Linked DNA regions of Homo sapiens. The protein of the gene in region 1 purifies or fractionates together with the protein of each later gene. This does not show direct contact. Each region holds a gene or a part of one and is shown on either strand. Other genes may lie near its edges.

Region 1 (5,305 bases):
CTGGGTGAACAGCAAGAGCGAGATCGTGAGCAAGAGAGGAGGCGCTGGCAGCAGCGCGACAGGCATTTCCCAGAGGAAGAACAGCTGGAGCGAGAAGAGCAAAAGGAAGCCAAAAGGCGCGACAGGAAGTCCCAAGAGGAAAAGCAGTTGCTGAGAGAGGAAAGAGAAGAGAAGAGACGCCGTCAAGAGACAGACAGAAAATTCCGCGAGGAGGAACAGCTGCTCCAGGAAAGGGAGGAACAGCCGCTGCGCCGCCAAGAGCGTGACAGAAAATTCCGCGAAGAGGAACTGCGCCATCAGGAACAAGGGAGAAAATTCCTCGAGGAGGAACAGCGGCTGCGCCGCCAGGAACGGGAGAGAAAATTCCTTAAGGAGGAACAGCAGCTGCGCTGCCAGGAGCGCGAGCAACAGCTGCGTCAGGACCGCGACAGAAAATTCCGCGAGGAGGAACAGCAGCTGAGCCGCCAAGAGCGTGACAGAAAATTCCGTGAAGAGGAACAGCAGGTGCGCCGCCAGGAACGAGAGAGAAAATTCCTGGAGGAGGAACAGCAGCTGCGCCAGGAGCGTCACAGAAAATTCCGCGAAGAGGAACAGCTGCTCCAGGAAAGGGAAGAACAGCAGCTGCACCGCCAAGAGCGTGACAGAAAATTCCTGGAGGAGGAACAACAGCTGCGCCGCCAAGAGCGTGACAGAAAATTCCGCGAACAGGAACTGCGCAGTCAGGAACCAGAGAGAAAATTCCTCGAGGAGGAACAGCAGCTGCACCGCCAGCAACGGCAGAGAAAATTCCTCCAGGAGGAACAGCAGCTGCGCCGCCAGGAGCGCGGGCAACAGCGGCGTCAGGACCGTGACAGAAAATTCCGCGAGGAGGAACAGCTGCGCCAGGAGAGGGAGGAACAGCAGCTGAGCCGCCAAGAGCGTGACAGAAAATTCCGTTTAGAGGAACAGAAAGTGCGCCGCCAGGAACAAGAGAGAAAATTCATGGAGGACGAACAGCAGCTGCGCCGCCAGGAGGGCCAACAACAGCTGCGCCAGGAGCGCGACAGAAAATTCCGCGAAGACGAACAGCTGCTCCAGGAAAGGGAAGAACAGCAGCTGCACCGCCAAGAGCGTGACAGAAAATTCCTCGAGGAGGAACCGCAGCTGCGCCGCCAGGAGCGCGAACAACAGCTGCGTCACGACCGCGACAGAAAATTCCGTGAAGAGGAACAGCTGCTCCAGGAAGGGGAGGAACAGCAGCTGCGCCGCCAAGAGCGTGACAGAAAATTCCGCGAAGAGGAACAGCAGCTCCGCCGTCAGGAACGAGAGAGAAAATTCCTCCAGGAGGAACAGCAGCTGCGCCGCCAGGAACTGGAGAGAAAATTCCGTGAGGAGGAACAGCTGCGCCAAGAAACGGAGCAAGAGCAGCTGCGCCGCCAAGAACGCTACAGAAAAATCCTAGAGGAAGAGCAGCTCCGTCCGGAAAGGGAAGAACAGCAGCTGCGCCGCCAGGAGCGCGACAGAAAATTCCGCGAGGAGGAACAGCTCCGCCAGGAGAGGGAGGAACAGCAGCTGCGCAGCCAAGAGTCTGACAGAAAATTCCGCGAGGAGGAACAGCTACGCCAGGAGAGGGAAGAACAGCAGCTGCGCCCCCAACAGCGTGACGGAAAGTATCGCTGGGAAGAAGAGCAGCTCCAACTTGAGGAACAAGAGCAGAGGCTGCGGCAGGAGCGAGACCGGCAGTACCGGGCGGAGGAGCAGTTTGCCACGCAGGAGAAGAGTCGTCGTGAGGAACAAGAACTATGGCAAGAAGAGGAGCAGAAACGTCGCCAGGAACGGGAAAGGAAATTACGGGAAGAACACATCCGCCGCCAGCAGAAGGAGGAACAGAGGCACCGCCAAGTCGGGGAGATAAAATCCCAAGAAGGGAAGGGCCATGGGCGGCTTCTGGAGCCCGGCACTCATCAGTTTGCCAGTGTCCCAGTGCGCTCCAGCCCTCTCTATGAGTACATCCAAGAGCAGAGATCTCAATACCGCCCTTAAGTGATGTTGCCAATATCTTGACACCTGCCAAAGCTTCGAGCACGGGAAAATGAGAAACACTGGGTACCAAGTGATAACTCAGATGTTTCTGGTTGTGGGAAAACTCTCTGATATTAGAATGTCTTTTCTTCCAAAATCTTAAACTACGCTCATTTTACGCACTTTGTACTTCTGCTTTTTATTCTTCCTCAAGTAGTTCTTTACTGCAAGATGTCTTTCTTTTGCTCTTTGATGCAGATGTGGTGTGCATTTAAAAAAAATATAAATCATTTAATTTGTTTAAGAAATTTTGTTTGAGGAACATGTTCATTTATTGCTTTCAGAAGTAACAAGAGTAATAGGATGATTTGAGATTCTAAACAATGGGTCGGTTTGTTTAATGACTGACCCATCTTGTGGAAAGTGCAGATACTTTTAATGTTCAAGTTGCTATTTCTTCTTGAACCTAAATTGATCATTGCCTCCAAACAGCATTTCATCTTTTGTGGCATAGTTAGCACAAATTCCAGGTAACTAAATTTTTATAACCCTTGAATAGTGCAGGGGGAGTGACCTCTGCATAAAAACTTCCTGTAAAATCAGCCCATTACTGGAAGAAATATCTGTTAAGAATAGGTTTAGCTTTGAAGATTTAGAATTTAAATTAGATTTTTTTTAAACTCAACTCCACTTAAACACATAATCTCATGAAGAAATAATGAGGTGTTTCTCAACTTCAGAGTTCAAATTTTAAAACTGTGTCTGTTGTAGTCTATAGTGTTCATTCTACTTCCCCAAGTTTTGATGAGTTTCAGAATATTATGAACCTTTGTTAATTTTAGCTTGTTAGAAGGAAGCTGCTCAGAATCCCATAAACATCTGTCTTACTCTAGGGCCAATAAGAGATCACATAGAGCATGTTGGGGGTGTAAAAGGGAAAAATGTGTGAACATAGGGGCAAATTTCTAGAGGCCCTTTGACAAGACCCATTTGCCCACAATCATTTGAGGCCTATTGATAATACCTTAGATATATTCTTGTTGAAATAATTGGACTGTGAAAAATTAATAATAAATGTTTGGCAAGTAACTACTTTTGTCTGTTTTAACTCTGCGTCAATCATAACAAGATCTCATTGTCTGGAAACTAACACAAGTTCCCAATCACATAAGGGCATTTTGTTACTTATCTATGTCCAAATACGAAAAAAGAGGGGAGAGAATTCTTTGTTTTTCCCCAACCTTTTTTTTTTTTTTTTTTTTTTTTTTTTTTGCAGTTAGGCTGAACTCTATTTCCATCCCCACACTGAGATTGCCTTCCAGAGTGTTTTTGTTCTTGACCCCACAGCTTTCTATGCCATTTCTTGCAGCGACTCACTGGTCATGACAAATACTGGTGCTCCCAATATTTGTTAATATTTCCTTTAGAGAATGCAGCAGCTTCTTAGTCTCTGATGTCTGATGAGCCAATGATAGAAAATGGCCTGAAACTTCAGATCAGCACTATAAAAACTGTAGATGTCCTGTTAATTTAAGCAACATAATCCATGAGGTGACTGAGTCAGAAGGTACTTAATAGTAATCAGGCTGAAGTATCAAATTATTATCTTGTTAGATAATAATTTATTAGATAATAACAAACACGCCTGTGCTGCCTGCTGGATTCTTATTTTTAGTATTCATAGTTTACTAACTAGAAATAAGCCCAAGAAGGCCCTGATCAAAACAATGTCATTTCTAAGATCATGATGAGAAGATGCCCTAAAGTTATAGTCACTCAACATTTTGATCAGTGGTGGAGACAAGCTAGGCTTATGGCTCCTGAGTATCATTCTGATAGAGTAAGATGGCATTTTCTTCAAGAAGCACAGCTTCTCTCTCTCTCACTTTAACAAATGGCAGATGCCCACCAAAGACATAACCTGGGAATCCCCTGACATTGTCTTGGAATTTCATCTCTTTCAAATGATTTCTAACTGCAAAACTATTTTTCCCCTAAAGTATACTCTTTTTCTTACTTAAGCACCTTCAAAGAAATTCTGGAAGAGCTTCACTGACTTTCCTCAGGACCCTCTATGGGTACTCATTCAAGAGCCTCCTTATAAATGCCCAACCTCAGGATACCACTGAAATATACACTTCATCAGCTAAGCTACAGTTTAACAATGATAATTATGGTAAAAATAAGCAAAGCCCTGGGGACTTGTAGCACTTTACAAGAAGGTAAAGCCAATTTCCAAAGAAGAAAGTATTGTTTCATCACAGTTATAATAACATGTAGTTTAAAAAAAAATGTGTCAGCCAGCCCGTGCCCTCTAGCTGTTATTTTAGCATGCTGGCAGGAGAACATGCAGGCCAAGCCTCCTGCTCCACCTGAATGATACACATGCATTTGCAGAACCTGGAGGCTGTTGGGCAATTGCCTACTTAATTATAAACTGGGAACTCTATTAGCATCACTTAGGCTGCTGCTGGGGAACGCAATCAAGAGTTTAATATGCAGTGATAGAAAAGCTGGTCTCTATGTGTTGTGACCTCCCAACCCCCACAGAGGTTCACGTGTTGAAGTCTTAACCCTCAGTACCTCAGAATGTAATCATATTTGAAGATATGGTATTTATAGAGGTAATTAAATTAAAATGAGGTTATTAGTTTGGGCCCTAATCCAATATGACTGATGTCCTTATAAGAAGATGAAATTTGGACACAAACATGGACAGAGAGAAGATGATGTTAAGATACAGGGAGAAGATGGCCATCGACAAGCTAAGGATATAATCCTAGAACAGGTCCTTCCCTCATGGCCCTCTCAAGAAACCAGCTCAGGCAACACCTTGATCTTGGACTTCTAGATCCCAGAATTGTGAGAAAATAAATTTCTGTTGTTCAAGCCACCTAGTCTATGGTACCTTGCTATGACAGCCCTAGCAAACTAATACAATATGTATCAGTAAGATGGCATTATGTTGCTAGGTAAGCCTATCTGTATCATGATGATCATTATCCTTTGACATTGTGCAAGCAGGTTCTGGTTGCTCAAATATAAATCGTTTTCCCATTAAATCTGCCATAATTTATATGGTAGAGTAGAAAGAATGCTACAAGGAATCAAAAGCCTTGGGTTTATTCATTTATTCACTCAATAAGTATTTATTGAGCTCCTGCTATGTGCCAGGCATTGTTCCAGGCAGTATACATACAGTGGCTTGTTTCTTCACTTTACTATCTGTATGTCCTTGTCCAAGCCACTTAAGGTTTCTGGGCCTTCATTATTTTGTATTTAAAACTATGAGGCTGGAATAGCT
Region 2 (4,495 bases), on another chromosome or scaffold:
ACTGCATACAACACACACACATTAGGTAACAACTGCATACAACAAACACACATTAGGTAACAACTGCATACAACAAACACACATTAAGTAACAACTGGATACAAGAAACACTTGGTATTTCCCCTTTATGGAGTGAGAGAGATCTTTAAAATATAAACCCTTGATAATATAATATTACTACTTCCTATTACCTGTTATGCAGTTCTACACATTATCTGACAAATTCTTAATGTAATCTGGTGACAGAGAAAAATAATTTGAGGAGAAAGTATTTAGGGAGTGATGAAACAGACAGAAAATTACTTGTGGTAAGGACCAGTATTGTATTTGACTTTTTAAAAAACCATTTTTACCCTGGAGCTAAAATACGAGGTTATACTGTTCTGCTTAATACAATACTGGCAGCCTAAAAATGCTTCAAGAAACCATATCCCCAACAGCGGCAGAGCATCGGGAGGAGACCCTCTGTCTCTGAGGCTTCGGTGCACTTCTGCTCAGACGGTGGCGGGAGTGGAGGTCGCTGCTGAAGGGTGACGGTGTGGCCATGACACGGGCAGCACGGGAACGGAAGACGCCGGAGACCCAGAAGGCGCATGACTGCCTGGCCTCGAGTCACTAAAAGCAGTTTGATTTCACTCTTGTCTTACTTTTCTAGTATGGCTTCCTCTACTCTCTTAAACTTCTTCAGTTCGACAACGAGTTCCCAGTATTTGAGATAGAGCCACATGAGTCTGCCATTCTGGCGTTTGTTGGTGTTCCAGACATCACCACAGTATGTATCATGCTGAAATATGTCGGTGAGACCGGCTGCCATCTCTAGGTCAGCGGCGACGGGGTCGACGGACGCTCGCACCAGTAAGCTCTTCTCTATCTCCAGCCGCTTGCTGCGAGGAAGAAACAGACTGCAGTAGATATTCTGTCTTTCTGTGAGAACAGCTTCAAATTCTTTCAGCAAAAGCCTGGCTCTCCTTTGCCAGTTTTCTTCCCTTTGCAGGCAGCTCAAATACGCACTTCTCAAAGGCTGCACCTGTCTTTTTTCTTGCATCACCTGGGCCCGTTCCTGTTCCAGAAGCTTCTTTTCTTCTACCAACTTGCGTCCCTGAGAGATAAGGGCTTCTCGGTAACTAGCAGTTCTGTTTTGTTCCTTTTCGAGTTCCAAGGACAACTGAGCGACAGCACGCCGATTTTCTGAGATCATGGCGTGGTACTTGGCTTCCAGATCCTGTTGAAAAGCAGCAGTTCTCCGACGGTAGGCTTCTCTCTCTTTTTCTACTTCTTTCTGGGACTCCCTAGACCAAATCCAACCTGACATGAATGAAGAAAAATACACATAATGAAAAAGTTAGGGCTGAAGTTCTATAATCCTCACTTAAATCATAAGGCAGCTAAGGATAGTGTTTCAGTAAAAGCTTAAGACCTCGGCTGTACCAAGAAGATCACTTCTACGTGAAAATGTGTAACAGGCCAAGTTCTTATCTGAAAACCAGGTAAGGGCTGGGTGACCAAAAGACCCTAACCCTAGCCCTTTCCGTCTTCTAACTGTTTGTTGCTAAGAAGATCTACCACCATTTGCCTGCTCCGGCTCTAGTACAATTGGCAAAGTTTAAAATGTTTGGGTCGACTTCAACTACCGTTGGCCAGGTTCTTATAAAAGTTGTATTTAGCTTTGCCCGGTGGCGACTAGTAAACGGCCTGAGTTTGAGACACTGCTTATGTTCTGATAAGGACACATAAAAATAAAGTGGGTTAAGAAGTTCAGCCTCAAGACACAGTGGGCCTCTTTCCTCAAACTGGAGACTGCTGGAATCTCACGAAAACGGGACGAAGATTGCTGGGAGGCTGGAGGGGGCACTGCCCGGCTCTGCCCCCTACACCAAGGAGCAGCAGGGCTGGCCTGCACTGCAGAGAAATCCAGCGCCTCTAAGACCGGATGACTCACACAGCCTGCTGGCCAGCAGGCACCTGGCTCCGTATAGAGCCACCAACCCTTTGTCCATCCCACAAGTAAGAGTTGGATGTGTTTCAACAATAAAAAAAGACCGTGTGATAACAGTTCCATCCACATTCCGAACTGATGCTGCTCAATAATTTCATGCATGTTGGAGCAACTGCATGCTAAGTCTTAGTTTTCCAAACAGCGACGTGTTCTGCTTGTACATTCTAAAAGCAGCACGGAGTTGAGTCTTCTGGAAAACAGAACTGTTTGGCAAATTTTCAAAGCCCAAGGCCCCAAAAGCCACTGAGAGCAGCAGTCTGGGTTCCCTCGTGTGCTTCTATCCTGTAACCCCTCCCCTACTAACTGTGGGACTCCCTCGTCTGCAGCCCCTTCTAGAACCACTGGAGTTTCTATCAACTTTAATGGTTCTCTTCCTCCTCCTGCTGCCTCCCCCAACCCAGGTGGTGTCCTTGACATTCAATTATTTTCTCCCGGGTCATTAATGGTCACCTTTTTCTTCCAGGTCATTAATGGTCACCTTTGCTTTTCTCCCGGGTCATGAATGACCTTTGTGGGAGCAATTCCATAACAGCAAGATTTCCATTAGCCTGAAAGCCAGTCCCCCTTGGATATGCTGTTGACACTTCACTGAGTAAGCACAAAACCAAACTCATCCTTCCTCAACCAAAAATAGCTGCTAGTCCTACTTCAGATGACAACTCAAACTCACGTCACCTTTATCTCCTCCCTTTGACGAGAGCTCACAGGCAGGGGCCTGACCAGGAAAGAAGCTGTTACAACGTCACTTGATAAGCACTGAGGGGTTTGCAAAGGTATGTGAGGAGAGAGAAGGGAAGGCTCGTCTGGTTTTGGTGAAGTCAAGAACGGCTTCCTAAAAAGGTGAATGAACAAAGTCTAGAAGGCTGAAGGCTGAGCAGAAGCTGCAAGGAAAAGTCACCCGAAATTAAACGAGCAAGGCAGGCGAGAGCATCGGAGAGTGAGAGCTTCCAGGAGCCGGATGTGCCTGGGGACGGGGCTTATGTCAAGGACAAGCTGGAGCTGCCTCTGGAAAGTCACAGGTGCCAAATGAGAGGGGCCCCCAGGAGACCCGGACAAGGAGCACGGGATATGTTCTGCAGCCACGAGGAGTCAAAGGAATTAACGTGACTTAAGAGCATCCAGGAGGTGTGGAGGGGTGGAGGTGGGGCTGCGAGGGGTGGCGCCGAATCAAGAGGAGACAGGGAGCTGCTCCCTGATACAATCTGGGGACGATCTCAGTCGAGTCACATCATTGACACACCAAACCACTGGAAAACTAACACAGACAATGACGCACACGGTTAAACGTCAGACCCCACCATACAGGCTGTGGTTACTGGTAAGTTTTTGGCTGGACAGGGAGCCAGGCAGGGGAGGCTACAGGCAGCTTTGCAGAGGAAAGTGTGGCAGGACAGGCTGGATGTCAGGAAAACCTGAATTCCGAGTCTGACCTGACAGACTTTGGGCACACGCAACTTTTCAAAGCCTCAGTTTCCGGTGAGACTCCTGCTTCTGGGAAGACGGAGTAGACATCCTCCCTATTCTTCTTCTAAGTAAACTAAAAATCCTGGACATCATCTGTAAAACAAGATGACTCTGAAAGATGGAGAGAAGGCAGACTGGCTTGGGTCCTTGGGACCCCAGGAACAACACGGGGGCAAGTCCTCTAGATTTTCATTTTGCCTCATAGATCCCATACTTGGAGCTGAAGACACAGTCAATTGGAAATCTCAACGGGTGCAGACAAAAAAAGAAACTCCAACAAAGCCTGCTGTCTCTGCCCAAAGGACCACGATAGAGGCCTGGCAAGAGAGAAAATGTTCCGACAGTAATCACTCTACATCAGCCAAATAACACAGAAAAAACTACGGCCCCACCTCCACCCACATGGGCAAAGGCTGGATGGAGCTGAGGCTCCCACTCCCACCCAGCAGCAAACACAGGGTGGGGTCGGGGGGAGCCATGTGGGGAGCAGTGCTGAGGCCTTCCCAGCCGGGGGGCACCAGTAGAGGCCGGGGGGCTGGAACTCCCATCCTTTCCTCGGGGGCCCATGGGGGCCAGAGGCTGAGTGGGGAGCCTGGACTTCCATCCTCACCTGGCAGTAAGGAGGCTGCGTGGCCCTTCCCCTGCCAGGGCGCCATTCAAGAAAGCCAGCTAAGACCGAAGGTTTAAATAAAAACCAGTGTTTCAGCACGTAATGCCCCAAATGCGCAGGTTCAAACAGAAAATCACTCCTAGTACCAAGGGCCAGGACGGGTCACACTAAATGAACAAAGATGATCAACAGATGCCAAGACCTGGATGAGAGATGGCAGTATCATCTGACAAGGACTTCAGAGCAGCTGCCATGACAGAGAGCCTAAGAAAATAAACACAAGACGTAAAGAAGAACCAAATGAAAATTCTGGAACTGAAAAACAGAACAACTCGAAGAAAAACTGGAATGACGGAATCAGGACTCCCCCACAAACACAGAAACAACCCTTCGCAGCCTGGCCACACACATCATTCCACAACACA

The links. Proteins that work in one complex are often made in the same cells at the same time.
Region 2: the proteins of TCHH (region 1) and CCDC127 purify together in Homo sapiens (co-immunoprecipitation; one large-scale study listed by IntAct). This does not show direct contact.

The regions. Positions count from the first base shown.
Region 1 is NC_000001.11:152,104,102-152,109,406, reverse strand, and holds the end of TCHH (trichohyalin), read left to right. Parts: coding exon 1-2,022; 3' UTR 2,023-3,090; downstream 3,091-5,305. UniProt on the Homo sapiens protein: Intermediate filament-associated protein that associates in regular arrays with keratin intermediate filaments (KIF) of the inner root sheath cells of the hair follicle and the granular layer of the epidermis.
Region 2 is NC_000005.10:204,654-209,148, forward strand, and holds part of CCDC127 (coiled-coil domain-containing protein 127), read right to left. Parts: intron 1,306-4,495; coding exon 644-1,305; 3' UTR 1-643.